Homo sapiens: one gene and its partner. Each later gene encodes a partner of the first gene's protein in a complex. Each region holds a gene or a part of one and is shown in the gene's direction. Other genes may lie near its edges.

Region 1 (16,835 bases):
TTATGTAAGTTTCTTCAACTGGAAAATGGGTAGGAATACCTGTCCTAACCCCCCACAGTGTTGTAGTGAGAACCAAATGAGATGATGCTTGTGAAAGAATTTACCAATCTGTAAAGCACTGTGTAATGGATTATAAACACTGCCTCCTCATGTGCTTACCCTGACACGTTTTATGCTTTCATCCTTCTAAGAAGCAGTTGTTTGTGCATGGGGATCACCTGGCATTCTTGCTGCAGCACTCCATCATAACCCTCAGCACAGAATGCAACATACAGTTTGCCAATCGACTTCAGTGGGATGTGAAAAGTGAAAAGTGCATTTAATTCTCACTAAGATGCCTTGGCTCAGATTCAACAAATGCCATTTACTTGAAGGCCTTTTATTTGCTTTTTCTGCCTGCCCCCCTGCCAAAATCTTCATCTATTTGTTCATTTATTCATTTACTCATTTAACATAATTGTTTTGAGTGCCTACCAGGGTCATGTTAGACACCCAAGAAGTAAAGTGAGTACTTCAAGATATTCACGTTGTACTGAGTGTAAGACACACAAAAACTTACAGTAGATAAAAGAACTATAATAGGATATATAGGATACACTGTGTACAGAGGTAGGAAAGATCATTTTTGCGAAGTGAGGGAGTGTGTGTCATGAAAGGCTTCAAAGGAGGTGCTAGTCTGTCTTCAAAACTAAGTAGCAGGAGAAGGTAGAGGCGATGCAGGTGAAAGAAACAGCTTTCACAGCAGGTGAAAGAAAAAAAGCGCTCTGGGAACCATTGTTAGCTCAGGCTGTGATTTCGTTCATTCTATTACAGTGGGTTAAATTACCTGTTGTTTGCCAAACCCTATACCAGTTTATGGGGTTACAGGGGTCAGTGTAGGCATCATGGGGGCGGACGGTGAAGTAGCAAAGGAAAACCAGCCACAGTATGAAGAGCCTCGAACAACCATTTTACTCCGTGCCAGTACACATGGGAAAGGGTTGAAAGGATATGTGAACCTGCCGCCACCAATTCCTTGATTATTCACTGGAACCCTTTCAGCCAGAGAAGATAGACACAGTACTGGGCTTTACTGAGGACTGGGTGGCGCTGTCTTTAGGGGCAGGTTAATAATATACACCTAAGTGACAAGAACACTCACACCCGAGGAAATTAGAGTAGTAAATAGACACGTGGAAAAATGTGCCATCTTATCAGTAATTAAAGAAGCAAAAATGTAAACAAAGCGGCACCTAGTAAGGTAGAAGACAAAGCAAAATATCTAAGGCTGTTAAATAATGGGGAAGCAGGCGCCTTAGAAAACAAGGGCAAATGTAAAAAACCTCTAAGGCAAGAGTTCGGTGGGGAATCTGCGGGATTCTGTGTGCTGAAGCGCAGGAGGCACGAGTCACCTTTGCAGTCTCCGGTACCAAACGGGCAAGGGGTCCCCGTAAGACTGCTGCACCCTGGCCGAAGGTAGCGGGTGAAGCGCCTCGGCGTCTCTAGGCAACCGATCAGCCCGCCCACTCCGGGGTGACTTCCTCGTAATTGGCTCTCGAATCCACCAATGGGCGCACAGGGGGAGCTTCCCGCCACCTCTGGCGCCCGCTTTCAAACAGCCGTACTTTGCAACTGCAGGTGGACTTCTCAACCAAGCTTGAGGAAGGCGGAGACTTCTGCCTCCTCGCTCTGCCCTGAGCTGGCACGGCTCCGCCCACCGGGCGAGCTTCTAGTCGGCGATTGAAGGATGCGAGTGCTCCTTAAGGGCCTCCGCCCCGTGAGTTCGGTTGTGACTAGGAAGGAGCTAGTGGACTAGAGCCAGGGTAAGGGGATCTGCTAGAAGTTGGTCTTCCGCCAGGACTAGAGTTTCCTCGCGGTAACAGCCTCCGTGGCCTCCGGTAAGTTCTGATTCACGGGTGAGCTTGGACCTGGGGTTAGAGGAGTTGCGGGGTCCTCGGGATGCTGGCTGAGGGTTCCTGGGGGGGCTGACCTGCCCCCTCCCCAAATCCCGCGGTGGTGGACTGCCCGCATGTTGCGGGCTCAGCTTTTACCTTAACGTGTCATTTAGACCTCTTCATTCCTCCAATATCCTACTTAGAAGTGACATATGGGAAGCCCGCCTCGTTTCCAGGCTGCTGGGGTCGCCCTGAGACCCTACTCTGCGGACCCCGCCTTGGTCACCCTGGCGTCACGCCTGGCTCACAGTAGGTGCTCTGTGCACGTGTGTTGACCGAGTACAAGTGACGCTGGCACCCGAAGCCAGTAGCCCCGGGCATCCTGGGCCCCGTGCGGCTTTGGTCATGTTTGTAGTGCCGTAGCTGACGCCAAACAGTTCCTCAAGGTCATTCGCTCAGCCTGTGGATGCTTATTGTGTATTAGCATTACTCGCTCCGCCCTCTGGGCAACTTGAATCAATTTGTCCAAAGTGCTGTTATTAGCACTGATCACAAGATGTTGTGATCATTTGTTTATATGTCTATTTTCTTTCCCTTCATCGTGTCCTGTTAAACTTTGTAATCTTGAACAGTGCTTGGTAAATTGTCGAATGAATGAATAAGGTGTCTCCACCAGGTGTTGCAAGTCTAAACCGGGCTATGTGCTCTGGCTATTTCCATTCTAGAAGGCGAGTTATGTCAGCAAGTAAGTAGAATTTCCCAACTCCAAGTGCAGTTCTTAGAAACCCCTTTTGTGGGGGTTTATAACCCTTCCTATATCGTAGTCATGAACTTGAGTCTGATTTAAGCCTATTATCACCTTATACCTTCATAGTGCGTGACAATGAACATGCACTCCCTAGACAGGTGAATGCACTCAACTAAAGAGAAGCTGAAGTTGAAGCCATAAGAAAAGCATAAGAAATACAGTCTGAAAGTGCAAAGGAGTGGCCAGCTCCATGGGGGAACAGGCTTGGGAGGGCATCTTGAAGGAGGGTGGCATTTTTGTTCCATAGGAGGTTGCATTATTAGAAGTGACATTTCTCATAGGCTGCACATTCACCTTTTCTCAGATATGCGGAATCCTCTTTATTCCCTAAACCTCTTCGGTAGCTGGCAGACTCCTATTCATCAGTAATAATGTCATAATAGTAATAAAACTACAATGTATTGATTGGTACATAGTGCTAATTACTTTACATGTAGTATCTTGTGAATCCTCAGAATCAATCTTTGAAGTAGGTATTATTTTTACCCCCATTTCTTTAACGTAGAAGCAGAAACAGTTTGCTCAAGATTGCACTGCTGATAAATAGAAGAGCCAGAATTGAGCCCAGGTTGTCTGAATGAGTGCCCTCATTCTTAGAACCACTTATAGCCATATTGTGTCCTTTAAGATTTATTTCTAATCTAAAAGCTCTTTTTTTTCTGTAAAACTTCTCTAAACTATCCTTTCTTCTTAGGAAAAGTAATTTGTGCTTTGTACTTTCATCTACTACGGAATTTATTACAATATGTTATTGTAACTGTTTATATCAGTGGCTCTATCTAAGAGAGGGTGAGCAGAGACAGTGAGCTCCTCATGGCTGGTACCATGTCTTAGGTGCATCTAGGATATGATCTGGAACACAGTGGGTATTCAATAAAATTTTATTGAAGTAATGAATTCGTATAAGGTAACATGCCTATATCATATTCAGTCAACAAATATTTGTTATGTACCCACCATGTGCAAGCAGGCAGATACATTTTAATTCTGCCTTCAGGGTGCTTATAGTTTATTAGATGAAGCAAAAACAATGCTACTTTTGCTTTGTAATCTTTTGTCCAAATACCCATTGCTTTTGTTGCAAGGAGGGCAGAGAAAACAACCGGGGACAACAAAAGGAATGCTGGGTCAGAGCATCCATCTGAGTGTAACAACAAGACATACTTTTTATAGTCTTGTTAAGGGTTCAGAAAAAGTTATCTAGGAAGAAAGTCTACCAGACTGCTATTGAAGAAGAAAACCAAAACATACTGTATACTTAATCTGCATCTTGATTTCTCAAGTGGTCAGCCTTGAGTCAATAGATATAGAAAATTTTCAGTATTTTTACTAGTGGCATAGTATTGACAAATTAATTCAAAATAATTTTACTAGTGTAAATGTTAATTTTCAATATATTAATATTGATAGTTTTCAAGATGGTTTAGCAGTTGATATTTTCACCAGCAACTCATGAGCCATACAAAATACAAAATAGTCACCACTGGGTGATAACAAGTTTTTTTTTTGTTTGTTTGTTTTTTCAATCTAGTGGTTGAAAATGGCATATTGTTTAAATGACACTTCTTTGAAACATCACGAGCTTAAGCATCTTTTCAAACTAATTGATTTACACTTTTTAAAATAAATTGTCATGTCAGTCGCCCAATTTTATATTGGATTGTCTTTTTCTCATTTCTTTGTAATAATTTTATATTGGGACTTTGTCAGGTGCTTTGCAAATTTTTTTTATTCTTATTTTTCTTGACTTTGTTATTGATGTATTTTTTCATATATAATATTTGACTCGTTAATGATGTCTTTTGCCTTAAACAAAATTTTATTTTTTGTGGTTAGGTTTCCATCACATTTTTCTTTATGGCTTTTGGATTTACTATCTTGCTATTTTTTTTTTTTAAAGAAGTCTCTTTTGTTGTTCTGAATATTATACTAAAGTCTCTGGTAGCAGTGATAATGAGTGGTGATTAATAAGTTAAGGTATTAGCTTTTATTTTAAGTCTCATTTAAAATATGTATTACCTTTTTACTATATATATTTTTAACCACATTAAGTTGATCAGGTTTCCCTTTATGTCTGAAATCATTTCTTAAAGTCTTTTATAGTTTATAGTTCTGATAAGGAAAACTTATACCTTCTTCAGTGGGGGAGATTTTGGTCTTTTCAGGTATTTTTAGATGTCTTCTTTAATGACATGTTTTGAATTTAAAATAACATTAAAGATATATACTTTGATATTTTACATTCTCTTTAAAAACAAAACCCTAAGTATTCTCTATCTGAGAAAAAGTAGCTGTCTATTTAAAATATTAGTAGCTACATTTTTAGCAATAGGCTCTTATAAATCTTAATGTTCTTTTTCAATAATCAACATCAGTTGATGGCAGGTTAATAAAGGATGGGAACAAACCTCTCTTCTCTAACTTAATGAAGGAGAAAGTAACCCAAATTCCATATTTCGTCTTGTATTTATATTTGAATGAAAGAAAGGTAGAAGACACAGAATTCAGAAACAGAAAGGATTTTTTCTGCCTGGAGGATTCAGGAATTTCTTTAAGGTCCAGCTTAATTTCATCTCTTTTTTTTTTTTTTTTTTGAGACGGAGTCTCGCTCTGTCGCCCAGGCCGGACTGCGGACTGCAGTGGCGCAATCTCGGCTCACTGCAAGCTCCGCTTCCCGGGTTCACGCCCTTCTCCTTCCTCAGCCTCCCGAGTAGCTGGGACTACAGGCATCTCTTTTAAGGACATAGGATTTAATTGGGCTAGTATTTTCAATATATATAGTGTTCTGTAGAATATTAAGTCTATTTGCATAGTGGAAAAAAATCTAGAGACATGAGATTGTGTGTTTTTCCCTCACCATTTCATGTTACAGGCTTTTTATCATATTCATATCTTCATCTTATGTTGACATACAAAAGGATTCTTATAGATAGATTTATTTTCCTCGATATGCATGTCTCTTCCCCCGTTTAGCCCTGTCACAAGGGTAGAAAGGAATAGGTGTGGTCTGAGAAGCAGAGGCTGGAGGGTTTTAAGTTGAGGTATAGTCTGAGTTGATATGAGTTTAAAGGGACGGGTTGGGTGTAGGGACCAGAGAGGAAGGGATTAGAAGGTAGACTGCAAATTAGAGGTTGGCCAAGAAACATAACTCAGTCTTTGAAAAACAAAAACTTGTCATAGGGGGATTTTTACCACTGAAGTTCATATGTATGTTAATCTTTAATACCATATTCATCTATTCTAGCTTGCATATTTTCTTTTCACACTTTAATATCTACAACATAGACTGCGTCCTAAAATTAATGTTATGTCATAATTTGATTGGCTACATCTCGTTCCTACTGCTACAAATGGAACTGCATCATAGAATCAAAGACATCTTAGATCTGATGAAATGGGATATTGTCTGCTCTAGAGCTATTGGCTTCCACAAAAGTTTGTGATATAGTTCGTATCTGTTAAGACGAGGGAGCTAAGTTCTCTATGGTAAAATGCATTTGGATTGCTGGGTCTCCATGCTTCTGATTTTACTTCCAATTTAATGACATTTTAGAGCTTGAAAGGTGTAGTGAATGAGTTGTGGCTCAGGCTCACATCCAAGTGCGTTTCATTGGCATGAACAACAGTGGACTGAATGGAGGGCAGTGTTAGGCCAGGTAATTGATGACACCTGCCTACTTTTTTGTTGTGATTGTTCAGAGCTTTGAAGTTCTGAGGAGTTTATGTATAGTGTCAGGATCCCTAAGTACAAGTTAAATCAGCAGCAGCTTTTTTGAATGTAAGTAGTTGAAAACCCATTTCCTGCTGCTGCTTCTGCCGCAGCAGTCACTGCTCCCCAGGGAACTCTTGCTGTTGCTTTTGGAATTGGAAGTCCACAGTGGTGGAGCTTCACAGCCTTCACTTCTGTTTTTCCCGAGTATATTGCCAGAACCTGATTTTATCAAGCTTAAGAGGAGGACATTTAAGACTTATATTTTGTTGTGCACTCTATGGCATTGACTGAATTGTAAATGGTTTCTGGGTAGTAGTCATTCACTCATGATTTAGGGGCCTTCTTCTTGTAAAGCATGATATTTGGATTTCTGATATTAAAAAAAAATGAAGCAATAGGGTACTGCCTGTGCCATGTTTAATATATCACATTTGAAGTTTTGTTTGAGCTTAAGATTTTTACATTTGGCACATTTCTAGTTTATTATTATTGTCATCTTATTTTTCATGTCGGCAAAAATCTTACTGTTTTATACTCTTCAGACCACTAGAAAGGTCTATTCATAGCTTTATTACCTATTTGCATGTTTTCTTTTCCATGAATTGCTGTCATATAGCTATTTTCGGTGAATCACCATTATTTTTATTGGCCATAACTGAGTTATACATATTTTCTCCCAGTCTGTTTCTGTCTTTTCACTTTGTGTATGTATGGCATCTCTTATGTAGTTTGTCCTGGGGAGATTTTATGTGGTGTCCAGAAACCAAACATCTTTCCCTTCCCACAGGAGGACCATGTCATTAGACTTTGGCAGTGTGGCACTACCAGTGCAAAATGAAGATGAAGAGTATGACGAAGAGGACTATGAAAGAGAGAAAGAGGTAAGTTGTTAAAAAAAAAAAAAAAAAGAGACACTAAACCCAATCTTTAACAAGTTTTATTTCTTGATCAAAATTGTATCATCTTGTGTCATTTTGAAGGGATTTGGATTTTTTAAAAAAAAAACAACCCTAAAATCTGCTTGCTATTTAGACTGAAAAGGTGAATAAGTGGAATGCTTCTGTTTTTGAGACAGGAATAAAACACAACTGTGAATAATACCATCAGATAAATGGTTAAATTTTTCTTTTCATTTAGGAGGTAATGGTTGGCTTTGGAAGTGGAAGGTTAGTTTCTAGGTGCTTGAAACATTGCCATGAACAAGTCTGACAAGGCTCTTTGCTTTGGGTAGTTTACATCCTAGTGGAGGCAGACAATAAACAAGTAAACAAGTGAGTAAAGTAATTTGAGTGAGTGATAATTTATCATTGATAAATGACAGGGAAACAAATTGGAGTGCTATGAAAGCAATTGATAGGGGATTGCTGTAGATGGGGTGGTGAGGGAGGGTCTGTGGGAGGAGGCAATATATGAGCTGAGACTTGACTCATGAGAAGGAACCAGCCATGCAGAAGCCTGAGGAAGAGCAGTCTACGCCAAAACACCAATGAGTGTAAGCTGGGAAGTTGGGAAGAGACCCCGTGTATGCCACAGATCATGTGGAGCGGCCAGAAGGCCATGGTATTGGGTATATATGAGCCAGTGTTGGGTGGTGGATGTGGGTGTCAGATCATGGAAAGCCATGATAAGGTGTTTGTATTTTATTCTAAGAACAATGGGAAGCCAGTGGAGGATTTTAAGCAGGGAAAATTGATATCATATTTTTGAAGATCTTTCAGAAGGCTGCATGGTGAATAGATTATAGAAGGAAAGGAATAAAAGGGAGAGACCATATTATTTATATGTAAAGTGTTTAGCAGAATTCTTGGCACATAGCAAATGTTCAGTAAATGGTGGCAATAGTAATAGCAGCAGTAATAGTGTTATTGGTGGAAGTCAATTTAGTTGTTTTGGTTGTTTTTAGTGTAAGTCAAATTTCTTGATTGTCTGTGATAAAAGGCTTCTTTTGTCCTGACGCTATTTTTTATATGACCCATTTTCTAACATGTAAAAAAGTCTTTTTTAATAGTTATTGTGGACCATGAGTATTAACAGGAAGCAAGGAATAGGGTCAGTTGACCATTGCTCATGTGGCTGGTGGTAGAATTAAGGCAGTGATAGAAAACTGGCAACTTGCTGGATTTGGTTCAGACAGGTATTGTTGGTTGCAGAGTGCTTTTAAAAAATTGAATCTGTATTTGAAGATGGGAAAATTTTATGCAGCACTGCAGAGTCTCTGGCTTATCTAAAAAACATCCAAAGCCCTGGCCACACCTGGCCTGTATTTGCACATGGCAGCAGGCGGGCTGGAACTGAGCAGTGGCTCTCCTTCCCCAGCTGGCCACAGTCCCCACTTCTCACACAGACATGGGCTTATGCACTCAGACCTGCCTGCTTCACTCTGGTAAATTCTCTGCCAGGGCCCTGAGGGCATTTGAGTTTATGACCCTGGTGAGGGTTTCCGGATTTTGGCAGGGCCCCTCACAACAATTGTGGCAAGGATGGGAATGAGGATTTTCTGTTACTTTGAACCTGCAGCATGAGGTATTCATGACTGGGCTTGGATAGTTGGCTGGGGTTTAGCCACTGGGATTCTTGAGAAGGTCAGTTTAAATAATCACTACTGTAAAGAAGAAAAAATATTTTGACAGGTGATTTTTCATTGAGAAATATATTAGAGAGATAGGTCTGCCAGTGTATTGTGTGGTTAAAATTTTAGAGGGGATACTAGTTAAGGAGGCAATTAATTCTAGATAATATAGAAAACAGCTATTTGGGATCACCTCTTTGATAGATTGTATGCTGGGATAGGGAATTTCAGGGGAAAAGTTGTTCTTGAAAGATCAAGTATCTAAGAATGAGTATTTCTAGCAGAGTGGAAGGATATATAGCTGAATTGACTCTAACATGATGATTATGGTTAAATTTGTAAAAAACTTCATGTTAATAAAAATATTTTTACTTTAAAAAATAATTGCTGCAAGGGAAAAAGTGAGATGAGAGGCTAGAGAGGTTCAAATTTTAGTAACAAACTTCGGAACTGTTCACAAATCTTCAGCTGTATGTATACTTTGTCACTACAAGTTAAAGTAATAAATTGGGTGGTCAAACCCAAGCTTGAATGCATATCTAGAAGGTTTTTTTTAACTGTCTCAGTCTTCCTGACCCAGCAATAGCCAAATGGTTCACAGCCTTAAGAGATTAAAGAAAAAAAGCTGTTTTATCCTGTCTACCTGGTTGGTAGCTTTGGGACTGTGGCTTTGGGATTGTGGCTAGGTTATAACTGTTAGCAGTGGGCTAATGCATATTGCTTTCTCTACTTAGTGAATCACTTTGTGTTCAAGTTGCTGATGTGGGAGGAATGCCTTTATCCCTGATGATGTGCTATAAGGCTTACCAGGCATACCACATCTGACTCATAGTCTACCCTGCTAAGGGTTTGTGAGAGCCTGTCTTGGTACATGGTTGGATAGTCCTGATTTTCACTGCCTGGGATGAAAGGCTAGTTGCTAATACAGCATGTTTTTCCAAGCTGTGTTTAATTTTGTTGTTTTGGTGCCAGTTGGGATTTTGTCCACATGGGCCCATATCCCAATGAATACACCATTCCAACCTTCATGCCATCCTAATGAGCAGCTTTACAATTATGATTTTGCTTTTTCCATTTCTATTCTCTCCATTGTTTGTATTGAAGGTCAAAGGGAGAAAGTGCCTTTAACATTCAGAAAAAGGAAAGGATTTAGTAAATACTTTATTCAATATTTAGAGGATATTTAGACCAGTGGATCTCAAGCCAGAGACCATCACAAATATACCCATATTTTGGGAAAAAAAAAAGCAAGAATTTTTTAGAAACGTCCTATAATGTATTTCTAAAGTGCTACAACTCTTAATGGTACATTAGTAAAAGTTGGCCCACTGTGAGTCAAGGCATAAAGGCATAGTAGAGAGGTACATAAACCACAGCTTCTCACAGTGTTTCAACTGAAACTCTCATCTCTTAAAAATAGTCGACAGAGCAGATTAGGGTGTAGATCAGTGAGAGTGATGACATCATAGAGATATGTATCGTCAGTTAATATCAATTAATTGTCACACATTACTTATGTTTCTCCTAACTAACTGGAGGGCATTATTTTCTGATTGTACCACTTGAGAGCTGCTGGTAATACTTGTCCTTCTTGCTAAGAAGGAGATATCATCCAAAGCAAACTTTTCTTTATAAAGCTGTCCCAGAAAATAATTCAGAAGCTCTTGTATTAACTCACTCATAATGTAACAATATGACTTTGCAAAAATGCTTTTCACCTAAGTCTCTATACTTGTGATTGCACAGTTGGATATTACAGAGATATAGTTCTTTTTTTTTTTTTTTGAGATGGAGTCTCGCTCTGTTGCCCATGCTGGAGTGCAATCACGGGATCTTGGCTGACGCTGCCTCCCGGGTTCAAGCGATTCTCCTGCCTCAGCCTCCCAAGTAGCTGGGATTAGAGGCATGCACCACCATGCCTGGCTAATTTTTTTTGTATTTTTAGTAGAGACAGGGTTTTGCCATGTTGGCCAGGCTGGTCTTGAACTCCTGACTTCAGGTGATCCAACTGCCTCGGCCTCCCAAAGTGCTGTGATTACAGGTGTGAGCCACTGCACCCAGCCCCAGATAAAGGTCTTTTTGTAATAGGCATGCTTGTTATAAGCCTCTCAGTTGTTGGTAAAGCCACAGCTTAAACAAGATTGCCATTTTGGACTCTCACAGTCAGCTGGAGTAGACATGTACTTTCTGCAGTGTCACCAGAAGTAGCTCTGTGATTGTTGTTGGTTCCAGATAGTAAAATTATCTATTTATGTGTGTATATATTCTGGAGCTGGTGATTTGGGGCAGAAATACTTGGTAATCTATGATATCAAGATAATATTTGCTGATGATGGATCATTTAGTGTTGACGGGTCATTTAGTGATGACATATTTGAAAATGATCTTGAGTAGAAAGGTAGATGGTTTAGGTAGCAGGTGGCAGATAGAAACTTGCACTTGGCAATACTGACTTGGTTTTTATAGTGGTACTTCTCTAATAGAATAATAAAGCTCCATTGAGCTCAGCATCATGTATTTTAGAGGCAAGGTTTCCATTGCATAGCCTTTCTTCCACTTTTTAACTGCCTTGTTTGATGTAATTGCGGAAGCATTTTGATATTTTGTTTCCACTAGAGGGAGTTGTAAAGCTAGTATTTGTTTACATTTAGCGTGTATCCATGAAAGCATTATTTAATAATTCATATTTGAAAATATCAGAATCTTTTTAGAAGCGTACTAAGAGGTCACCTGTTCAAAGGGAATATGACCGTTAGGTATTCCATTTGCTACCCTTTCTCTTGGGAGAAGATTATTGTATGGTTTGTAACTTGAGGCCTCTTGCCTTCATGAATATTGAGGATTATAGGCTCTGAAGATAATCTGTTTAGTTAATTTAAGTTGAAAATCCTAACAAAAGGTTTACATGTTCTCTGTTTTACATTTGCCCCTGAATGTAGGCTTTTGTATGTTCTACATGGGTTATTGCAAAGTGTTTTGTTAACAAAGTTCTTTGAGTAAAATGCTCTCTTTTTTTTTCTTTTTAAGAAAGAAACATGAAGTAGAAAAGGAGGGGAGTTTATAGAATGATTCTGAATTTATTTCAACTGAAGCCTTAGAGTGGCAAATTATCTTTCTTACAGGGAAGGTATCTGTTAAATTTTTAAACTCGGTTAATACACAGTAATATCCTGTTGAGATTGCTGCTTGCTGCCAAAAAGCAGTCTGATGAATTTTAAATTAATGAGTGGTATTAAATCTTATCACTTATAAGGATTGTTATTTCTGTTCTTGAATCTGTATTTGGAAGTTTGATAGATCTTTAATGAGGAAAATTTATAGTTTCTAAATTTCTGTATTTGGTAACATGCATATCTAGATACGGCAATTTTGTGTTTTATTGCACAAGGTTAGTGACCAAAGGGCAATTTGACAATGTATATGAGGAGGGCACACTTTGATCCTGGGAAATGGAAACACTGGAGGTGGAATTTTGTTCCTGAATGGCCTTATTTAGGAGGACTTCATTTAGCTTTTCTCTGCCCTGAAACTTACAGAAGCCAGGGAATATGACCCAGCTATGCCAAAGAACTTGATGGATAAATTTTTTGAAGATCAATTTTAAAATGTTAGCATATATGTAAAATATCTTGCAAGACTCTGAATACTATAGGGATGATTTTGCTAGTTGATGTTTATGTATGTATCCAGAAGCATTTTGATTAGCTGATTGCTTATACTCAAATTAATTTTTCTCTGTGGATGCCAATTTTGTGGTGTCACAAAGCTACAATAACTGCTGAATTATTATGTAGTTTTTTGTTTTTGTGCGGGGAAAACAATGTACTCTTCAGATGTCCCTGTCAAGGCGCCCCTGAATTTTAAGGCTATGTACTTGAACCTTACTGAAGGTTTACAAGAAAATATTCTTTCTGTTCAGGAGTCTTTACTTAATGTAAGTATAAAAGATTTGTTTTATTTTTCCTTGTGTAACATGTGGGGGTAGTCTTTTTCCTTAAAGCAGTGATGCATAATTCTAGACAACAAGTGGTGCTACTTTTAAAAGACCTCATAGATGCAACTTTTTTCTCTAGTGCATTTGTGTCTTTGTAGAATTGCTTTGCTACCTTTCATTTGAGGCATGTCTTGTACAAATATGTTGATGTGTTCTGTTTTGTTTTTCATGTTGTGTCTTTTGTATTTCTTGTTTTTTATATCTCTCAGTCAACTCTGATATGGCTAATTCTCAAAATGATTTTTCAAGTACCTTGCATGTGGAGATGAGCATTTAATGAGGGTCTTGTGTGTTAATGTTAGCGTTAAAAGATTTAAAGATGAAGATAACTTTTCATTGAAGAAAATATCTTTCTCTTGTTGCATCTTTAGATGACAAATGGATTGAGAAACCCTTTAAAAAAAACCCATCCAGTGAATATGAGAAATAAATATAGAGTGAGGAAGTATTCCCACCCACCTCCAACATACTCTGTTCCCATTCCCAAATTTTATTTCACCAAAGCTCAGTTAAGAATTTGGGGCATTCCTTTCAGACCTTCCATAAAATATATTTATTTAACTTTTACTATACATATTTTGTTTAAGAAACTTTTTTTTTTGGTAATTCTTAATATAATACTCAGATATGTTTTATGGACACATTCCATTTCTTTTGTACTAATGACAGGTAAAGTGGAAAAAAAATGCTATAGACCAGGGAGCATCTCATTTTTTTTTTCCTGAAAGGTTTTACAAAGTATTTAAAGTCTTTAAAATCCACTTGCACAATGTTATGGGGTTTGATTTATGTCCTTTGGAGGGATTTAATCAAGCTGTCAATTAAACTGGTGCTTAGTTTCTTAAAGAGAAGTAATTAGAAACAGTTTCCCTAAAAAGTATTTAGTAACATAATATTTGATCTTCTAATTGTTACATAATTTAAGAAATACATTATATTGGGATTTTTAGGGTAATATTATTATATTGGGTTTTGAAGAAAGACAATAGCAGACAGTTATTGAAATCCTAAATGTTATTGAATTATGTCTAACAGACTAGCTTATTTACTCATCTTTTTATCACATTTGAAATTTGAATGAATTAATTTTGTCTATCTAGTTTATATAATAAGCAGAATGCTAAAACTGATTTTTTTCTAGAAAATAATAGGAGAGAGAAATCAAACATTTAATGTCAGATGTAGTGTCATGCTTTTGCATGTGCTATCTATAGAAAACAGTCTTCCAACTCTTCTTTTACTCAGATGTTGTATGAGAGCAGGGTATTATGTATCTTTTCATCTTTGGAATTAGATGGCTCTCTACTAATTAGTGACTCCCACGGGTTTCTACATTATCAGAGCATTTAAGAGCTTCTAGGCCACCTGCTGCTGCTGCTGTTCTCATCACCTGGCCAGAGTGCATCTGGCTACTCACATTCCCTGTGGGATGCCTAATTGTCAATTCCCCAAGGTCTGATTACTGATAAAACAGGATTCTGAGACTTAGTCTGCCTGCCCTGTGATAACATAATGCATTGATTGTACCATTATTGTGACTTGCTGTGTTTCCATAAAAAAGTTTTTGAATTCTGCTCTATGTGTATTTAAATCTGAGATCTTCGTTAAAAAAAAAAAAAGCCTTCTGATATAAATCCTAAAATTATGCATTCCCTTTTCCCCAAGTGAAATGATGAATATAATTTGTGTGGAACTTAAGAAGTTAATTAAAGGAGGGAATTATGAACTTCTTTGACCTCTACAGTAAAAAACCACTCGTTCCAAGGCAGCTTTGGCTTGGTGTCTTGTGTTTAAGTTGGTATGATATTGATGCAGACCTTTTGACTCAGTTGCAGCAGTTACTCACAGACCTTCCCCATGACATGCTGGATGACGACCTCTCCTCTCCAGAGCTCCAGTATTCGGACTGCAGCGAGGATGGCACAGACGGACAGTAAGCACCTGAAGTCACTTTCACTTGTATATTGCAATTCTATAAGTCTTTTTCTTTTGATGAAGATTAATAATTACATGATTATAAAATTGTAAATTGATTCTTAAAATTTTGGGTGAAGATTGGAAGGAAAAAGGTTAAAATCTTGGGGTTCTTTGTGTTATCTATGTACAAATAAATGATACGCTTTAAATCGAAAGTATTCCTTTTTCTCGAGACCACATCATCCTGAGCAATTGGAGATGAGCTGGAATGAGCAAATGCTGCCCAAATCTCAAAGTGTAAATGTAAGTATCTGGTGTGATGATGACTTTGGTGAGGGTGGGACTGGATCTTCGTGCTTTTGTTTTACTCTTGTTATCTAATAGGGCTATAATGAAATTCAGAGTTTATATGCTGGAGAAAAATGTGGTAATGTCTGGGAAGAAAATAGAAGTAAAACTGAAGACCGACATCCTGTGTACCATCCTGAAGAAGGTGGAGATGAAGGTGGAAGTGGTTATAGTCCTCCAAGTAAATGTGAACAGACTGATTTATATCACCTTCCTGAAAACTTTAGGCCATATACCAATGGTCAGAAGCAGGAATTTAATAACCAAGCAACCAATGTAATTAAATTTTCAGATCCTCAATGGAACCATTTTCAGGTATTGTAAAAACTTGACTTTCAAGAACTTGTGTGTGTGCACACGCATTTGCGTGATGTTTGTGTGTGTTCAGGAAATGTATGTGAGTACAATGGTAAGATGATTTAACCACACGAAGTTCTGAGAGGGCACTTATTCAGGTTCATGGTGAATTAGTCATGGTATTTTCTGTTTACAGTCTAATACAATCATGATCTTAAGTCAGAAGTTTAAAATAGAGGCTCTTTGGACATAGTTGATTAAACATTAAAAGTTAAGTCTGCCAAAGAATAACTATCCTCATTTACTGCTGCTTCTACCACTGCACTGTGCTTCAATGAGAAGCTGTGTTCAGGTCTCTTATTGTAGTTTTTAAAGCAGTAATTCTGTGTAGGTGGCAACATTTAATTTCCTCAGTTTTCTTGCTCACCACCCATAACAAATTTTAGGTTAAACATGTCAAAGCTGATATCTCTATTGTATGGTGATATAACAGTAGACAGGATGAATGTGAAGGAAAAACCAAAAAACCTTGTTTTTCCTGGGGGGGAGTTTAATGAAGTAAGACCTCAGGATATAGTTAGTTGCTTCTTAGAATTTCTCAATGACAGCAAATACCTCAACAGCTAGTCTGTGTCACGCAATGACAGGATGGATTTTTTAGGCTGTTAAGTGGTTATTTTCTCTTAATTCTATCTCCGTAGAATGTTATTATTCATCCCATAAGAGTTACTATTTATTAGATATGAGGCACCGTGGTCCATGTTCATGTTATTGGATATGTGCATTTTTATATTCCCAAGATGTTGGCATAATCTAAATCATTTGTAATAAAATATTTCTATATAGTCTTATTGGAATTCTTGGGTTTTATTTATAAAATTGCCTTCATTGTGTGCTCAAAAGTAGAATTTAGGTGTCTATAAATTATGTATTGCAGACTTTCAATTAATAGTGTTAAATAACAATACGTGCTACTTTTGAGCAGATATATATATGTGTGTGTGTGTGTGTGTGTGTGTGTGTGTGTGTATATATATAAACAACTTTGAACTGTACCAAAAGTAAGTTCTGTAACGTAACATTAATTTAGGTGTCTAATTCAGATAATTTTGGAAGAAAAGGCCAAATCTTAATTGTCAGTTTCATTTGTTATCACAGGGTCCCAGTTGTCAAGGTTTGGAACCGTATAATAAAGTGACATATAAACCTTATCAGTCTTCTGCCCAGAATAATGGCTCACCAGCCCAGGAGATAACAGGAAGTGACACATTCGAAGGCCTGCAACAACAATTTTTAGGAGCTAATGAGAGTAGGTA
Region 2 (16,835 bases), on another chromosome or scaffold:
CCTGCTGGCGACTGTGCACAGTGGCACTGGTGGTGGTGTTGGCTTGGGGGCAGGGCGCTGGCAGTTGCAGGTCTGTGTGCCTTCTCTGTGTACTGCAAACAGGAGTGGTTGCTCCATGCAGGGGAGGATCTGTTATTCTCTGTGCCTAGTTTCACTCCTGCGGCAGTGTTGGTGCAAGGAAGGGGCACTGGTGGAGGCAGGGCTGGCTGGTTTGGTGCCCACCAAGGTTCTGTCTGCAGTGGTGGTCAGTGGGGACATGGGAAATGAACTGCACTCCCGCCACAGCAGTGTCAAGGTGGATACATGTACACTTGCCTGCTGGTGGGGCAAGAAAAGCAAAACCTGCCGGCATAGGCACATGCCAGCAAAGCCATGTGGGGAGTTGCTATGGGCCTAGGGAAGCTGCAGTATGGGGACTGAATGTACAGGCTGGTGCATAGCCATGGGGGCCACTCTGCTGGAGCTCTCTGCTGGTCAGGCATAGTCTGCCAGCACAGAAGCTATGATGCAGTCCCCCAGGCCACCCAAGGCTGCCCTGTAAGCATGTGTGGCCAGGCTGGGGCCCTGGGAGAGGCCAGCAGGCCAAGGGGTGGTCAGATGAGACCGGCCCCATATGATGGACAAGACTACCCTGCAGAGTTCGGGTCCAACAGTTGCCTTAGAGCTAAAGTCTCCTATGGGTGCCAGTTAAGCCTAAGGGGATGGCTATCCCTGGCCATGCCCCACCACAGATTCTCTCACACCAAACCCTCTGGGCTCCATATCAGCTGGCTTGCTGCCCCTATCACTTCTCTAAGTGGCTCACCCTGTCAACTTGAGTGTTCATGGTGGGCGAGAGGTTCCAGAGGCCCGTGGCAAGAGTGGGTTGCTCCTTGCTAGTTCAGCTCACTTGTTTTTCCAGAGCTGTTTGGGCCAGGAATGAGTCCAGGTGCGTAGTCGCCTCATGTATGGTTCCCAGCTTCCTCCCCCTTCAGCCCAGCTTCTGTGTCTTCCCTCCATCCACTCTTCAGTGACCCCCTCTGAAGATCTGTTAGGAGCACACCAGTTGTCTCAGTCCCTCATTGGCAGCTTTTCCTCCTGGCTGTGTCTAGTCAGCCATCTTGCCCTCCCCCTGGTTTTTTTCTCCCCCGTTCTTTGTCTTCAATTTTTAAAAACCTTGGTCAAAGAACTCTTTAGGCTAAGTTTGAGAACTCCGTAGTCAGCTTCCATGCTGTTAGCAGATCTTATGAAATCATTTAAAGTTTTTATAATTCTGCAGGTGGGTCTTGTCTAACATGTGATAGAGGGCCAAAAGGCCACACTACTGAAAGCTTAAGGAGGGGTGTGTGTGTGTGTGCGTGTGTGTGTGTGTGTGTGTGTGTGGTGTTTTGAGGGTTGCCTTTTCTCTTGGTTGTGGTATGTTAGGAGTAATGGCTGTTACATACTGATGTGCTTGATGTGCTTTGTCTTTACGGGTTATAGCAGTGTAGACATGAGTCTCCTTTTGGGATAATCTGTTTCCCTTTTTTCTTCTGTCTTTGCTAAAAGCTATTGCTCATTTCTGCTGAGCATTGCAGTTACCCCTTCTACCTACCATACTTTCTAATTTTGGATCTTCTGGTGGATTGTGGGCTAGGAAATACGAATAGTTAAGACTCTTCAACTTGTTTTAATCAAACAGATGAGTCCTCATGATCTTTATCAAAGCAAAGTAGGTGGGCTTAGGGTCAGCCTCTTTTCTTTTCTTTTTTAAAATGTTCTTTTCTTGCTAATAAAAGCAGTAGCCATTGGAGAAAATTTAGAAAAGACCAACTATGAAGCAAAACATAATCATAATACCTTGAATCAGAGTTAATCTGTATTAACATTTGGTGTATTTCCTTTAAGCTATGTAAGTAGACTTCAGTAAAAATCCTTCACAAAATTGGGATTTTAGTATAGTATACTTTTTATATCGATATGTCTTTTAAATGGTAAGCATTTTTCATGTTAACTATTTTAATACAGCTTAATGTTTGCATATTTTATTATGTACATTCATTCATTATATTCATTCACAGTTTATTTATAAACATACAGATTTTTTCCAATTTGTCCAGTTTTTATAAAAGAACAAATCCCCATTGACTTTTTTTTTTTTTTTTTTTGAGACTGAGTCTCACTCTGTTGCCCAGGCTGGAGTGCAGTGGTGCCATCTCAGCTCAGTGCAACCTCCACCTCCTGGGTTCAAGCGATTCTTGTGCCACAGCCTCCTGAGTGGCTGGGATTACAGGCACCTGCCACCAGGTCTAACTAATTTTTGTATTTTTGGTAGAGATGAGGTTTTGTCGTGTTGGCCAGGCTGGTCTCAAACTCCTGAACTCAAGTGATCCGCCTGCCTTGGCCTCCCAAAGTGCTGTGACTACAGGTGTGAGCCACCGCACCCGGCCCCAACAAATTCTTAACATCTACATTTATTTTCTTCTTTTCCTTTTTTGTAGAGAAAGGGTCTCACCATGTTGCCCAGGCTGGTCTTAAACTCCTGGGCTCAAGCCATCCTCCTGCCTCTGCCTCCTAAAGTGCTGAGATTACAGGTGTGAGCCACTCTACCTGGCTCTACATTTATTTTTTTTACATGGATTTCTAAAAGTAGTGTTTACCAAGTCAAGGTTAAGAAATTTTTTTTTTTTTTTTTTTTTTTTAGACGGGGTCTTGCTCTGTCGCCCAGGCTGGAGTGCAGTGGCACGATCTGGGCTCACTGCAAGCTCCGTCCTCTGGGTTCACACCATTCTCCTGCCTTGGCCTCCCGAGTAGCTGGGACTACAGGCACCCGCCACCACACCTGGCTAATTTTTTGTATTTTTAGTAGAGATGGGGTTTCACCGTGTGAGCCAGGATGGTCTTGAGCTCCTGACCTCGTGATCCGCCTGCCTCAGCCTCCCAAAGTGCTGGGATTACAGGCATGAGCCACCGCGCCCAACAAGGTTAAGAATATTTATAAGTGTTTTAATATCGACTCCCACATTGCTTTCTGGAAAAGTCATGTGCTTTGTATTTCAGCACTTTATGGGTCTTTGATTCCAGATAACTTACCCGCACAAGTTTCGTTTTATAAGATCTTTGCTAATTTGATAGATATAAAATGCCATTGGATGTTTTCCTCTGATTGCTAGTGAAATTAAGCCTTTTTTCATGTTTATTGGACATTTATATTTTTGTGGGAATCATTCTTGTCCTTGAGTTATTTTTCTGTTGAGAGCTTAATACTTTTTACAAATTTGTAAGTCTTTTGTGTACTAAAAGTTAAAAGCCCTTTGATTTTTTTGTAAATATTTTTCTCAATTTATTTACCTTTTAATTTTGTTAATTGGATTTTTTAAAAATAGAAGTTTTACATGGTTAAATTTATCATTTTAAAATTACTTTTTCATTAGTTTTAAGCTCAGAAAATTTCCTTTCATCCAGAAATTCAGTTACATCATTCACTTACATCTTTTTTTAAAACTAGACTTTTCCATTTTATTGGCTGTATTTACCCATTCTTCCAGTTTGAACTTTAGAATGACTTTTTCAAGTTTCTTACAAAAATAAATTCCACTATAATTTTTTATTGGAATTGCATTTAGTCCTCATTCTTATAAGTAGCTTATTTCTAGTACTTTAAAAAAATTTACTGTTGTAGATTGTGATTGTTTACTCCCTTGTGTTCCCTGTTTTCCCTCTCCCTCCCTACTTACCAGTAGATGAAATTCTAGCTGGTTATTAAAAGAAATACTGCTGGATACTTGTGGAGGTGAAGGCTTGGCAGAAAATAGGTGTCACTGGTATCAAATCATTGAAAAGTGGGTTAGGATAACTTCCTTACCATGGTTGGTGGAACTCGTTTCTCTGGAGTTGGGTGAATGGTAAAGCAGGCACAAACCTCCTTTTGTTTTCCTGTCTGACGTTACTATTCTGTACTTTATTGTAGAGAAATTATTCCTAAGGTCTTCTAGATTTTTTATGAAGTATTGTTGGTTTCCAGGACTCTCAACACTTTATATTTCTTATTTTCATGAGTTTTTTTGATGAAAAGGGTTGAGTAGGATAATCAGACAGAGAGACACAGTTTCGGCCGGGCGCGATGGCTCACGCCTGTAATCCCAGCACCTTGGGAGGCTGAGACAGGTGGATCACGAGGTCAGGAGTTCAAGACCAGCCTGGCCAAGATGGGGAAACCCTGTCTCTACTAAAAATATAAAAATTCGCCAGGTGTGGTGGCATGCGCCTGTAATCCCAGCTACTTGGGAGACCGAGGCAGACAATTGTTTAAACTTGGGAGGCAGAGGTTGCAGTGAGCCAAGATTGCACCACTGCACTCCAGCCTGGGCGAGAGTGAGACTCCCATCTCAAAAAGAAAAAAAGAAAAAGAGAGAGAGTCTTCATCTAAACCTAGAAATTCTAAAAACTAGCTGTTTGTTCACTATTTTTTGGCAGTGTAAAGAATTCTTAAATAACTAGGTATTTGACTTCCTAAGAAGTGGGGTATCACCATATATATGCATTTGAGAACTTGAATTTACAAATAAATACAGAGATTATTTTCTATTTTTATATCTCAGGGATGTTATTTCAATGCTAATAGTGAAAAATACTACCACCTTTCTGCTTTTAGGTTGGAATGTTGCATCAGCAGGTAGAAGAACATGAAAAAATCAAGCAAGAGATGACCATGGAATATAAGCAGGAGTTGAAGAAACTACATGAAGAAGTGAGATTTTAGTTTTGTTAAATGTTGTGTGTGTAGTTCTCTCTCTTTCACCCTTGAGAACTTTGTTAATGAAAGCCAGTTTCTACTTTGTAAAGTGGGAAATACATACTCCATCAAAGATACAGGAGTGGGAATCCATTTCTCTGTTCTTTAATCCAGGTAAAGAGGTTTGCCTAACTGTAGGTTTGATACTACCTAGAAGAGATGCTAAAATATGTTTCTTGGTTGAGTACCTGAAAGAAATAGAGCTGTTTTTATGTAATACTGTGAAATACTTGATACCAAAAATTACATTTAATATTTTAATTTTTATCAGTTACTAGATTATAAATAATGGAGGATCCAAAGATTTAAGAAACATTTTGGGATAAATAAGACAAGTAAGAAAATTCTGTCCATTAACTCAATTTTATTCTTCAGATTTGGAAAAAACTGCTTTTATTCTGATTTAATTGCAAAGTACTCTTCTCCTGCATCCTGAATATCAGTGCCCTGCAAGAGCATGGCTTGAGAATCACAGACCTAGAGGAAAGAAAAAGAGTTTTTATTTGCTGCTTTATTGTGGGGCTGGGTGGTAGGGTCTTTAAGTGCAGGGCTATTGTAATACAAAACTTTTGTTTAAAATTTTTTTTAAAATTTTTTCTTTGAATATATTTCTTTAGTAGTGTTTGTTTTACATATTTAATTTTTAGTTTCCTTTTGTGTTTTAGTTTGGAAATCTAACATGTTCTCAGTAGTACTGGTTAGCACTGCTCTTGTTTTCATAATACCAATTTGTCTCACCACTACTTCTTACAAATTCTTAAACTTTAAATATAGAAATAACTGTTTCTACAGTTATGCATACTGAAGAGAAGCTATGAAAAGCTTCAGAAAAAGCAAATGAGGGAATTCAGAGGAAATACCAAAAATCACAGGGAAGATCGGTCTGAAATTGAGAGGTTAACTGCAAAAATAGAGGTATGTTCATAGTAATAATTTGTTCATAGTGATTGTCAGCCTTCACGTAGGAAAATGCGGTTTCTAATGGCACTATTTTCTGGAACCAATTTTCTACTATCTTAAGGACTGCCACTAAGCTATTTCAGAGGTGAGAGGGTGATCCACCATACATCCTATCATCATCTAGTTCCCTGGGTTAACGGGGTTACTGGCCATCAGTAATTCTCAACAGGGCAGTACCACCCTTAGGGAGCATTTGCAAATGTACGGAGACATATTTTTTTGGTTGTCAAAATGACTGAGCTTAATAAAACTGGCATTTAGGGGACAGGGACCAGGGATACTAAACATGCCTAAGAGTGTTCCACACAGGAAGGATTATTGTACCTCAAATGCCAGTAACTCTCCAATTGGGAAACATGACCACTAGTTATAGGCAGTCCTCTATGGACATTGTTCTTGTCTTATATATCATTGTATCTCAAGCACCTAATAAAGTGGGGGCTTAGTAAATGTGGAAAGTACATGGCACTTTTCGTACAAAGTAATCTCTGTATCAGATTATTCTCAATTCCCATTTAGATGTAGTAAGGCATTCACTTCCTTCTCTGCTGACTTTGTTTTTATTAAGACTGAATAACTCCATGATTATTGTATATATTGAGAACTTAAGGGGAGCTGGTGAGCTAATAGTACCAAGAGTAGATGAAGGAAGAGCACAAGGCTGTCATTCTCTTCGTCTGTCCTTGCCATTAGTTCTTCACTGGACATAAGAATTCCCAGGGTGCTTTTAGGCTCTCAGAAATGCTGATCCAGCAGTATGGCATAGGACCTAGGGATCTGCATTGTATCCAGCTCCCCTAGCTTATTCTGATTTGAGAAACATTGTTCAACATCTTTGTGTGATCACTTACAAGTTTGTACTCTGGGTGACCTGTCACCCACAAATGCCAGTATATTATTATTACTTAAAATTATAATTTCTGTGTTTAATATTCCTTTATATCTCAATATTTTTTTACATTTGAAGAGCTTAGAATCAGAAGACTGCAGCTACTGCTTCCCTTCCACCCTTTTCGGCAATACCTTTTCCCCCCAAACCCTATATCCTTCTTGCTTCTCATTGCCACTTCCTGACTATTCTCTTTTCTTTCTACCTCAAAAACCCCATCTTTGATTTTCATGTTACCAGCCTATACTGCCAGCCAATGAACATAACAACCAAAATAGTCATCGTCTGACCTCTGGGTTATTTCCTTGGCTCATTGATTTCAGCACCCAGCTCACTGTCAATTCTCTCTGACATTACTCTTATCATAACTTTGAGGATCTTAGGATCTGGAGAGATGATGCTTATAATACTCTGACCTTACAGTTTCTTGGCTTTCTTTCCTCCATAGATAGTTTGATTATCTTTGTGTCTCATCTACTTATTCCCACTGCCATTCCTTAGCTCTTGTCATTACCAATATATGCCACCCCTCTAGAATCTCATTTTCAAGCATTCAATTATCAGACTACCAATCCCTATCTTTTCAGCTAACTCTCTCTAGTCCTTTGACTCTCAGTAATCATTAACCATCCCTTAAAATGATTAAATTCTGCCACCTTTTTACTGCTCCATTATCTACTTGGTGTTCTCACTTATCGGTCCTTAGCCAGCTTTTAAATTCTGTCATTACATTTTTTACTTTCCCCTTCATCTCCTGTGCTCCTCTCTTGCTTCCTCATATTTGCTTGGCAGAATCACAGTTCTGCTTAAGTCCACCTTTCTGCCCACTCTCTACCTGTCATGTATCGCTGAACGTGGCTAGAGAAAAACCTAATCATACTGTCTGTTCTCACTTTAAATTCATGGTCACTAACCTCAAATGGGTCCTAATGCTACCTGGAATCATACTGTATTTCCTCTCATCTCCTACTTTCCACAATGAGTATTTCAGACTTCTGCTTTTCTCCTCAAACTCTCAACACCTTTCCCCACATCCTCACCTTTGGGTTATATCTTCCTTTCTGTTTATAGACTTCCAACTCTTGTGTCCACCCACCTATCTGCATCTGTGCCCATGTACCCTGCCTTCCTTCCTGGAGGAACTACGCATGCCCTCCCCCTTTTCTACCCAAGGCATTACCTTAGCAGTTCACCTTCTCTTTTCTGCACCCTTAATTTTTTTTCTCTACTGGATATTTTTTACCAGCATCCAAATTTCCCTCCTCTTAAATATCCTCTCTTGACCCGTCTCTTCCTCCTCTGCCCCATTTTATTTCTTCCATTTTATAACTAAAAAATTACTTCAGTCATCTATACTTGTCTCCAGTTCCTCTTGTCTCATTGTTCTTGTACCCACTCAATAAGGCTTTTGTCCCCTCACACTGCAGAAGCTGTTCACATAGAGGTCACCAGTGACTTCCACATTCCCAAAGCCTGTGGGCTGGTCCTTATCTTCCTCATCCTACCTACAGCTTTGTAGGAGAGCTGGTCTCTCCCAACTCCTTAACCACTTTCTTGACTTGGCTTGAGAAAAACCACATTTCTCTCATTTTTTCCTTGTTCATCACTCCTCAGTCTCCATTATTCCTTAACCACCTAGGGTCATGTCATTGGACCTTTCCTTTCCTTTTTTTTTTTCCTATCTACGCTCACTCCCCTATTGATCCCATTGAATTTCATAGCTTTAACACTGTGTATATGCTGACAATTCCTAAATTTATATATCTAGCCAAGACCTCGCCTCTTCATGACAGAATAACTTTCAACTGCCTGTTTCCTATCTCCACTATGATGTCTAAAATGTGTCAAACTTAACATGTCCAAGCTAAAGGTCCTGTCTTTCTCTTCCTCATCTCCCCAACACTGATTCATGTTTTAGTTGATAACAACTCAATTTGCTCAACCTAAAACCTCGGAGTCATCCTAGACTTCTCTTTTCTCAGCATGATAGCCAGAATGATTCTGCTGTAATGTAAGTCAAATTATATCACTTCCTATACAAAAACCTTCCAGCAGCTTCTCTTAAAAATCTGTTATCCTAATGGCCTACGTGGTCTCATTCCCAGTTATCTCTCTTACCTTGTCTTCTCCTACTTTCCCTTTCATTCACTTTATTCCAGCCACACCAATTTCCTTTCTCACCCTTAAACACACCAGGATGCTCTTATTTCAAGGCTATTCTTTCCACCCAGAATATTGTAACTTCACCCTCATCTCCCTAGGTGTTTACTTAAATGTTTTTCACTCAGTCTGGCCATCCCTTTTAAAAATTACAACCCCAACTGTGAAGACTTCATGCTCTGTTTTCTCCAAAACGTGTATTACCATCTGCTATACCATACAAGAAATGTGTCATCTGTTGCCCCCAGTTGAGTAGGACTAGGGTTTTTGTTTGTTTTGTTAAGTATTGTATCCCTGACTCCTAAAGCAGTACCTGGCATATATAGTAGAATGATTGAATGAATGAATGAATATCAGAAATTTGGTTAACAACACTTATCTTAAGGAGCCTGAGACTTCTGGAGTTGAGGGTCCTGGAAGACAGTGATAGAAAGATTGAGTTTCCTTTCCCTTTGATTTGCCCCATTTTCATAAATATTGAAATCACTTTCTTGATCATGCAATTTGATGTTACTATTGATCCATCATTAATTTTGAACTGTTTGGCTTTGGGTTACAAATATTTGTTAAAATTTGGTACAGATTTTCTTTGTTATTCAAACTTTTGCAGTTCCTCTGTTGAGATAATACAAATTTGGATATCAAAGGATATTGTGTTATCTGAATCTACTTGGTTCCTTAGTTTTAGATACTGGGAAGTAAGATTTGGGTTACCAAGGGACTTATCTGAAAATTTAATCTGTTCAATTCCTGGGTCTGGATATCAAGAATTTGGATAGCGAGGGATATCTGTAATCATACTTTAAAATTTTAGTTATCTTAGCATCAGTTTTCTGAAAATTCACTAGAAAATTATAACAACCCTTAGGTGGCAGCAAATCAGTGAAAAACATCTGAATCCAGTGCTTAACATCTGCGTGTCATACTCCTCACCATCAGGGTGTTAAATTTAGAAAGACAGATATCCAGAGGCACAGTATGTGAGGAAGTTAGTATTACTCTCCAGCTCTGTTAGCTGAGTGAGTAATGGGGCTCCCGCTGTGGAGAAAGGTGCAAGCGTACCCAGGGACATGGGGAGAAATTAAAGTTAAAGGGAGTCTGGGAAGTAGTGACAGTGAGGAGAAGCACTCAGAAATTAAGTACTCTAATTGCCTCCTCAGGAATTCCGTCAGAAATCGCTGGACTGGGAGAAGCAACGCTTGATTTATCAGCAACAGGTATCTTCACTGGAGGCACAAAGGAAGGCTCTGGCTGAACAATCAGAGATAATTCAGGTAGGCCTAAGACTTTTTAAAATAATGAGAAGCAGATAGGTTTTGATCAAGTTTGAACTACCTTAATGCAGTGTCCTAGTACCATTTAGCCTCTTTCAGCTTCTCTCCACGAACCCTGCTCTCTTGTTTAGGAAGCCTCTCCTCAGCATCTAGACTCAGCTCCTTCTTCCCGCCTGCCCTCACACATGCGTGCATTCACTCTCCTGTCCAGGCTCATGTCCTTGTGCCCGCTTGCTGCTTTGCCTCCTTGCTTGTTTCTGACTTGCTCACCCACTCTCTGTCATTGTCTTGCTTACTCAGGCTCACTCTATGCTTGCATCCATGTTCACTCTCCTCATCTTGGTCCCTAGCTTTGTCGCCCTCTCTTCCTCCCCTCTCTTTCTTCCCTACCACAGTCCCATTCCTCCCTCTGTCTCCTTTTCCATGTCTTTCTGTCTCTTGTTGGGTCTCTCAGCTCTACTATAGTCTGTGCCTTGCTCCATCCCTATGGTCACTGGGGTATCTTGGCCGAAGTGTCTCAGCTAGGGAGCTTCAGTTAGTCTGCCTATGCGGACAGATACGGAGAGAGTCACATGGCAATGGTGTGCACACCAACTAAAAGTGGTGTCTTTGTGGTAACAAAAACACTTATTTTAGAACATTGATAGAAACTTTTCTTGTAATGGCTTAAGCAAAACCAAAAAACAGACACCTACTTTAGGAATATGTCTTGTAAGAACATATTCAGCTCATTCCTTTTTCAGTTAGAATCAAGAACATAAAGGAAACTAAAAAAATTTGTGATCATCTGTTATGTGCTAGACATTGACCCAGTGCTTCTTGTATGTGTTCTCTGTTTAATATTATGATAATCTGTCAAGGTTGGTAGTTATCTTAGTTTTATAGAATGAGGGAACAGCCTGGGTAAGTTGAAATAGCTAGAAGGGAGGGTTTTTTTTTTTTTTTTTTTTGGCTTTTTGGGTTTTTAAAAATAATCTGCATTTATTTGCTATTTTAAGTCTCAATAATGCATTAACTTTTTGTTCGTCTCCCTGAAATATCAGCAGTCTGATAAACTACCGACAGTGGCTGTGGCTCTGCTGTGAGTGACTTCATTCAAAATGGTAGGAAAAGTCCACAACAATTGCAAGGAAGAAATTTATTTTCTAGGCCACAGCAAGCTGTGCAGCCAGACAGACCAGTGAAATCCTGAGATGTCTGGACCAGTTTTTTTGACTTGAATGCCAAAGCACCATAGAGACCTAATAAGAAATTGTGTGTGTGTGTATATATATATATATATATATGTATATATATATTTTTTTAACAACAAAAAATTTTTTTTGGTTTTCTTGAGATGAGGTCTTGCTGCATTGCTCAGGCTGATCTTGAATTCCTGGGCTCCAGCAATCCTTCCACCTTGGCCTCCTAAAGTGCTGGGATTACAGGTGTGAGCCACCACACTTGACCAAGATATTGTTATATTCTAGTTGTAGCCTTCAGATTGACAAAAAAGCAAATTGAGTCTTAATTTTTACAGTTCTCAATTATTTATCCATGGAGTATTATTGATTATAGATTCTCTCTTCAAATTACTGTTATCCTATTTCATATTACTGTTGTGATTATTGACTCTATGTAATTAAAACTTCATTATTAGTAAAAATGGGATTTTTACTTACTGTAATTCAGCTAGGGCTAGGGTAAGAAGCCTTTCAACAGCCAACATTTGTTTTTCCTACTAAGGGTGTTTGAATTAATTCTTCTGATAGTTTTGTTTAACCTAAAACTGTCTGATTGTTTAATAAAAATGTTACATATAAATGTATTTATCCTTCTCCCTTAGCAAACTAAATAAAATTAAATCTTTCAGTGATTCAGTATATACCAGTGCTGTATGATCATCATTTTTTTAAACATCTAAATAAACTTATCTATATCCATTAAGTAGCATTAATAGTTGTCATCATCTTGTCAATCTTTATTTTAATTATGGTAAAATACACATAAAATGTTCCACCTTAACCATTTTTAAATGTATAGTATAGTAATGTTAACTATATGTACACTGTTGTGCAACAGATCTCTAGAACTTTTTTATCTTGTCAAACTGAAACTCTATACCATTCCCTACTTCTTATTTTTGGGTGGAATATTACAGAGCAAATCATAGATATCATCTTATTTCCCAACAGGTAAGGACTTAAAAAATAACAATATATCAGTATCACATTAATAGAATAATAACTTCTTAATATAATTTAATATCCAGTCTGTTCACATTTCTCCAGTTGTCCAGAAAACTATCTTTTTACAATTGAATGTTTGAGTCAGAATCCAGTCAAGGTTGATGTATTGCATTTGGTTGAAAGGTGGGTCACCATTGAACAATGACAGTAGAAAACCTGGGAGGCTGAGTAAGTGGATATTAACCTACCCTCCATTAAAAAAAAATCTCTGTATAATTTTTTTCTTATATGTTTTTAACATCTAAAAGTATAATTCGGAAACAACTTCTCCTTCTTTGACATATGTTTGCTTGAATTCATTTCTTTTAATCAGCTATTAAAATTACATAATACATGCTTATTTTAGAAAAATGAGAAAATGCGGATAAAATGAGAAATAAATAAATCACCCATAATTCTACCGTTAAGAGATTTACGATGAATAAAATTTTGGTGTAAATTTCTTCTGACTTTGTGTATGCTTACATACAGTGTGCAGTACATTCATGTACTTTTGATAGGAAAAACCTATATGCACTGTGAATGGGAAAGGAGGGGTAGTTGCAAACTTTAAAAAGTCCTGAGAGTAGCAAAGTGTTGATAATTTTTGAAGCTGTGTGATAGGGGTTCATCATCTTACTCTCTCTATATTTGTGTATGCTTGAAATTTTCCATGAAACAATAACTTTAAAATATATAGAATGCTTACTAAGTGACAGGTACTATGCTAAGCACGTCACAGCTTTAAAATTTTTCCTTTTTAAATATGACATGTCAACAGATTTGTAGTCATAATGATTGTGTAGAATTCCCCCCTATCGTTAAATGTATAATGACATTTGTAACCAGTCCCTTATTGTAGAACATTTAGTTTTTTACTTTTCACTTTTGTAAATAGTGCTTAGATTAACATCCTTATATAAACATTTAGGAGTATTTATTTTCTTAGGAAATGGCCCTAGAATTGGATTTACTGTATCAGAGTACCTTCAAATATTTTAATATATATTGCCAAAGTTTTCTCCAATGATGGATTGATAGACTTTCTCTAGCAGTATGTGAGAATATCCATTTCCTCATACTTTCCCCACATTGAGCGCTATTATTTCTTTTGACTTTCCCCACTTTTAGGCTTGTCTTTGCCAATCTTATAGGTGAAAAAAAATGATACCATTGTTTTAATATACATTGTTTTAATATGAGTGAGGTTGAGGACTTTTTTCATCTGTTTATGGCCATCTTCATTTTTCATAAATTATTTGTGTCCTTTATTCACCTTTGTTTTAGGATTTTTTTTTTTTTTTTTTAAATCTTAATTTATTTTCTTTTTTGAGATGGAGCCTCGGTTGCCCAGCCTGGAGTACAGTGGCCTGATCTCGGCTGACTGCAACCTCTGCCTCCCTTCAAGCAGTTCTCCTGCCTCAGCCTCCTGAGTAGCTGGGATTACAGGTGCTCACCACCACGCTCAGCTAATTTTTGTATTTTCAGTAGAGACAGGGTTTCACCATGTTGGCCATGTTGGTCTTGAACTCCAGACCTCAAGTGATCTGCCCACCTTGGCCTCCCAAAGTGCTAGGATTACAGGCGTGAACCATCGCACCTGGCCGGATGTTTATATTTTACTATTCTGAAAGAGCTTTCCATACACTTAAGTATGAAATATAAGCCCTTTGCTATTATGTTACAGTTGCGTATGTGTACTCAATTTACCTTAATTTTTGCCCAGTATTTTTTATGGAAGTACAATTGTTTTATAAACAGTTAATTAGAATTGCTTAATTCTATCAATTTTTTGTTCAGCGTTTCTATCTTTGATATCATACTATAAAGTCTTACCTAAGTCAAATTTCTTCTAATGCTTTATCATTTCTTTTTAATACATTTTATCTAAAAATTACTTTAGTGTAAGGTATTTGATAGGAATCTAAATTTGTTTTTTAAATGGTTATATAATTTACTGACTATTACATTTTCAGGATTGGACAAAATGACTCTAAAATTCATATGGAATGATAAATGAACGATACTAGCCAACTTTTTTTTTTTTTTTTTTTTTTGAGACGGATTTTCGCTCTTGTTGCCCAGGCTGGAGTGCAGTGGCACAATCTCGGCTCGCTGCAACCTCCGCCTCCCAGATCAAACGATCCTCCTCCTCAGCATCCCAAGTAGCTAGGATTACAGGCGTGCACCACCATGCCCAACTGATTTTGTGTTTTTAGTAGAGATGGGGTTTTACTATCCTGGTCAGGCTTTTCTCGAACTCCTGACCTCAAGTGATCCACCCGCCTCAGCCTCCCAGAGTGCTGGGATTACAGGTGTGAGCCACTGCGCCTGGCCACCAGCATTTTTTAAAAAGGAGTAATGGGGGGATGTTTGTTCTATCAAATATTAAAATGTATTTTATTAAAAAGTACAGTTGTTAAACTGTAATGCTAGATGTAACAAAAGAGTCGTGGTTATATAGTATAGGAAAAGGATCAGTACAGTCTAAAACTAAGGTCATTTCTGTTTAGAAGGCTACTTTTTCTGTTGCCTACATAATGCAAAGGAAATGTTCAAGGAAATCTTAGAGAACAGTAAGAACATTTGAAAAAAATTAAAATATTAAGCCAACATAAAATGTAAAATATTTAACTGATAAACAGTATGTGAAAAAAGTAGAGGTTGCTCTATGTTTTCCTTTTGAAATACTTAGATGAGCTGTAAAATATTCTTCAAGTTAATTTTAAATCCACTGTTAATTATATGTATATAAATATATTTATACGTATATATGTTGTATTTTTAAAAGCATCCTTTTCCTGTCACAACTTTTGAAGAAAAAAATGACCCTAACTCAAATGTTGATCTGTTGTCTTGGTAGAATTATCAGAGTTAATTGAATTGGCTTAGACCTACTGTTTAAAAGTTCGTAGTAGCATAGACACAACAGTGATAAGAGAATCTTACTAGGAGCTGTGTTGTTAATAGGCTCTTTAGGCTGCTCTCTAGTGGAAATGCTGTGAGGCTGTGGCCTGCACTGGCGCATTTGGAGTTGACAGTGATGGGGAGCTTGGTAAGGGATTGATGCTTACAATGGCCGTACCTTCATACTGGGATTCTTTGGAAAATAAAAAGCCTTGTTGCTTCATATCACATTGTTCATAGTAATCTCACTCTCTGGGAGAGTCATTTTCTTGAAGCACCAGGAAGTAGCTATCACAAATCCAGAAGAGGATTTGAATTCAACCCCCACTCCCCAATTTCTTCTCCACTCTCTTTCACACTTTAGCTGGCCACACTGGCCTTTTGTTTCAGTTTCAGTCTCCCTGATGTAAACTGCCTTCTTGATTGCTTCTTTACTTTTAACCACCTCTGCTGTGATTTGTATTGTTGAAATAACTTCTACCCACTCCAATAGAATGCTAAATGTTAGATTAATAAGAGGAATGCCTGTTTCTGGCTCAAAGAATTAGTGGTTAGTGCAAAAAAAAAAAAAGTTTAAAAATATGCCAGCCTTAAAATACCTCTAAAGCCAGATAATTATCAGAAATAATCATTATTTTAGAAGTTTTTAAATAATTATTTCTGACTTTCTTAGTATTGATGAAGTGTTCTTGAGATTAGTGTAGTGCTAATAGATATTGGTGAGTCACATGTAATTTAAAATTTTCTACTAGTCACATTAAAAAGTAAAAAGGTGAAATTAATTTTAATAATATATTCAACTCAATATGTCAGAAATATTACAACATTTACTTTACATTTTTTTAATGAGTCTTTGAAATCTTCAACTGAATTTGTATTTTACGGTTAAGAGCACATCTCAATTCAGATTAGCCACAGTTCAGTTGTGCAATATCCGCGTGTGGGTGACTGCAATGGTATTGCAGCCCTAGTGCATTCTAGGCAATGAAAATTTAGAATTTGTACTTGAGTTGATTAATGTACTTTTCACTATGCTTAAAAAACACTGTATTTTTGTGTGACCAAAATAGTAAATCAGTGAAAGAAGGTTATGTTCTCCATTCTTCAAAACTGAGAAGTTTATTAGTATTTAGCAAATCTAGACTCACTGGTTAAAGTATGCCTTGGTTTAACTATTAGTTTATTATATCAATACTGAGTTTAAGATCACAGATTTGAGTTGATAGTGTTAGGTAGCTATTACAGTATTAAAAAGATAGTGTTTTGCAATTATGTATTATCTGAGTGCCCATTTTGGCAGTGGGTTTCTAGTTGTGTTTTGCTGAGACCCAGGGCTGCTGTACAGATTAAGGGTAGGACTAAGGGACATTTCAGCAAGCTGGGCTCTAACCCTTTTCTCCTTCTCACCCTCACCCAATATCTGCATTTATTTATTCTGCACAGGAAACCTTTCCTCTTTGAAAGAAAAGTTTATATTATATTTAAAAGTTTGGAGACAGTTCCATGCTTAGCAGTTGTTCTAGTGAATCTAAACCTAAATGTTGATGTTCTTCCTTTATACCATTGTAGGGATCTGGTTAAAAAAAAAAAAAGGCTCTTTGCACTGAAATCTTGATCGGTAATTTATACAAACAGTATTTGTCTATCTCTTCACCTCTCTCCTACCCTCTCTCTGGCTTATGGGA

What was found.
Region 2: the proteins of CEP152 (region 1) and CEP63 are in contact, whole or in part, in a crystal structure (PDB 6CSU), measured with the Homo sapiens proteins. Residues at the interface, in NP_001181927.1 of Homo sapiens: Gly1261, Ala1262, Glu1265, Leu1266, Gln1269, Tyr1270, Lys1272, Ala1273, Lys1276, Ile1277, Asp1280, Met1281, Tyr1284, Glu1287, Ser1288, Arg1291, Ala1292, Met1295, Ala1298, Arg1302; in NP_001340037.1 of Homo sapiens: Phe666, Glu669, Glu670, Arg673, Ile677, Arg680, Leu681, His684, Glu687, Leu688, Glu691, Ser692, Thr695, Phe699.

Annotation. Positions count from the first base shown.
Region 1 is NC_000015.10:48,796,003-48,812,837, reverse strand, and holds the start of CEP152 (centrosomal protein of 152 kDa), read left to right. Parts: upstream 1-1,768; 5' UTR 1,769-1,877; exon of another isoform or gene 1,878-1,907; intron 1,908-2,030; exon of another isoform or gene 2,031-2,140; intron 2,141-2,243; exon of another isoform or gene 2,244-2,619; intron 2,620-7,181; 5' UTR 7,182-7,188; coding exon 7,189-7,275; intron 7,276-14,786; coding exon 14,787-14,890; intron 14,891-15,107; coding exon 15,108-15,177; intron 15,178-15,258; coding exon 15,259-15,537; intron 15,538-16,677; coding exon 16,678-16,828; intron 16,829-16,835. UniProt on the Homo sapiens protein: Necessary for centrosome duplication; the function also seems to involve CEP63, CDK5RAP2 and WDR62 through a stepwise assembled complex at the centrosome that recruits CDK2 required for centriole duplication.
Region 2 is NC_000003.12:134,527,233-134,544,067, forward strand, and holds part of CEP63 (centrosomal protein of 63 kDa), read left to right. Parts: intron 1-4,612; coding exon 4,613-4,708; intron 4,709-5,527; exon of another isoform or gene 5,528-5,545; coding exon 5,546-5,668; intron 5,669-9,922; coding exon 9,923-10,036; intron 10,037-16,835. UniProt on the Homo sapiens protein: Required for normal spindle assembly.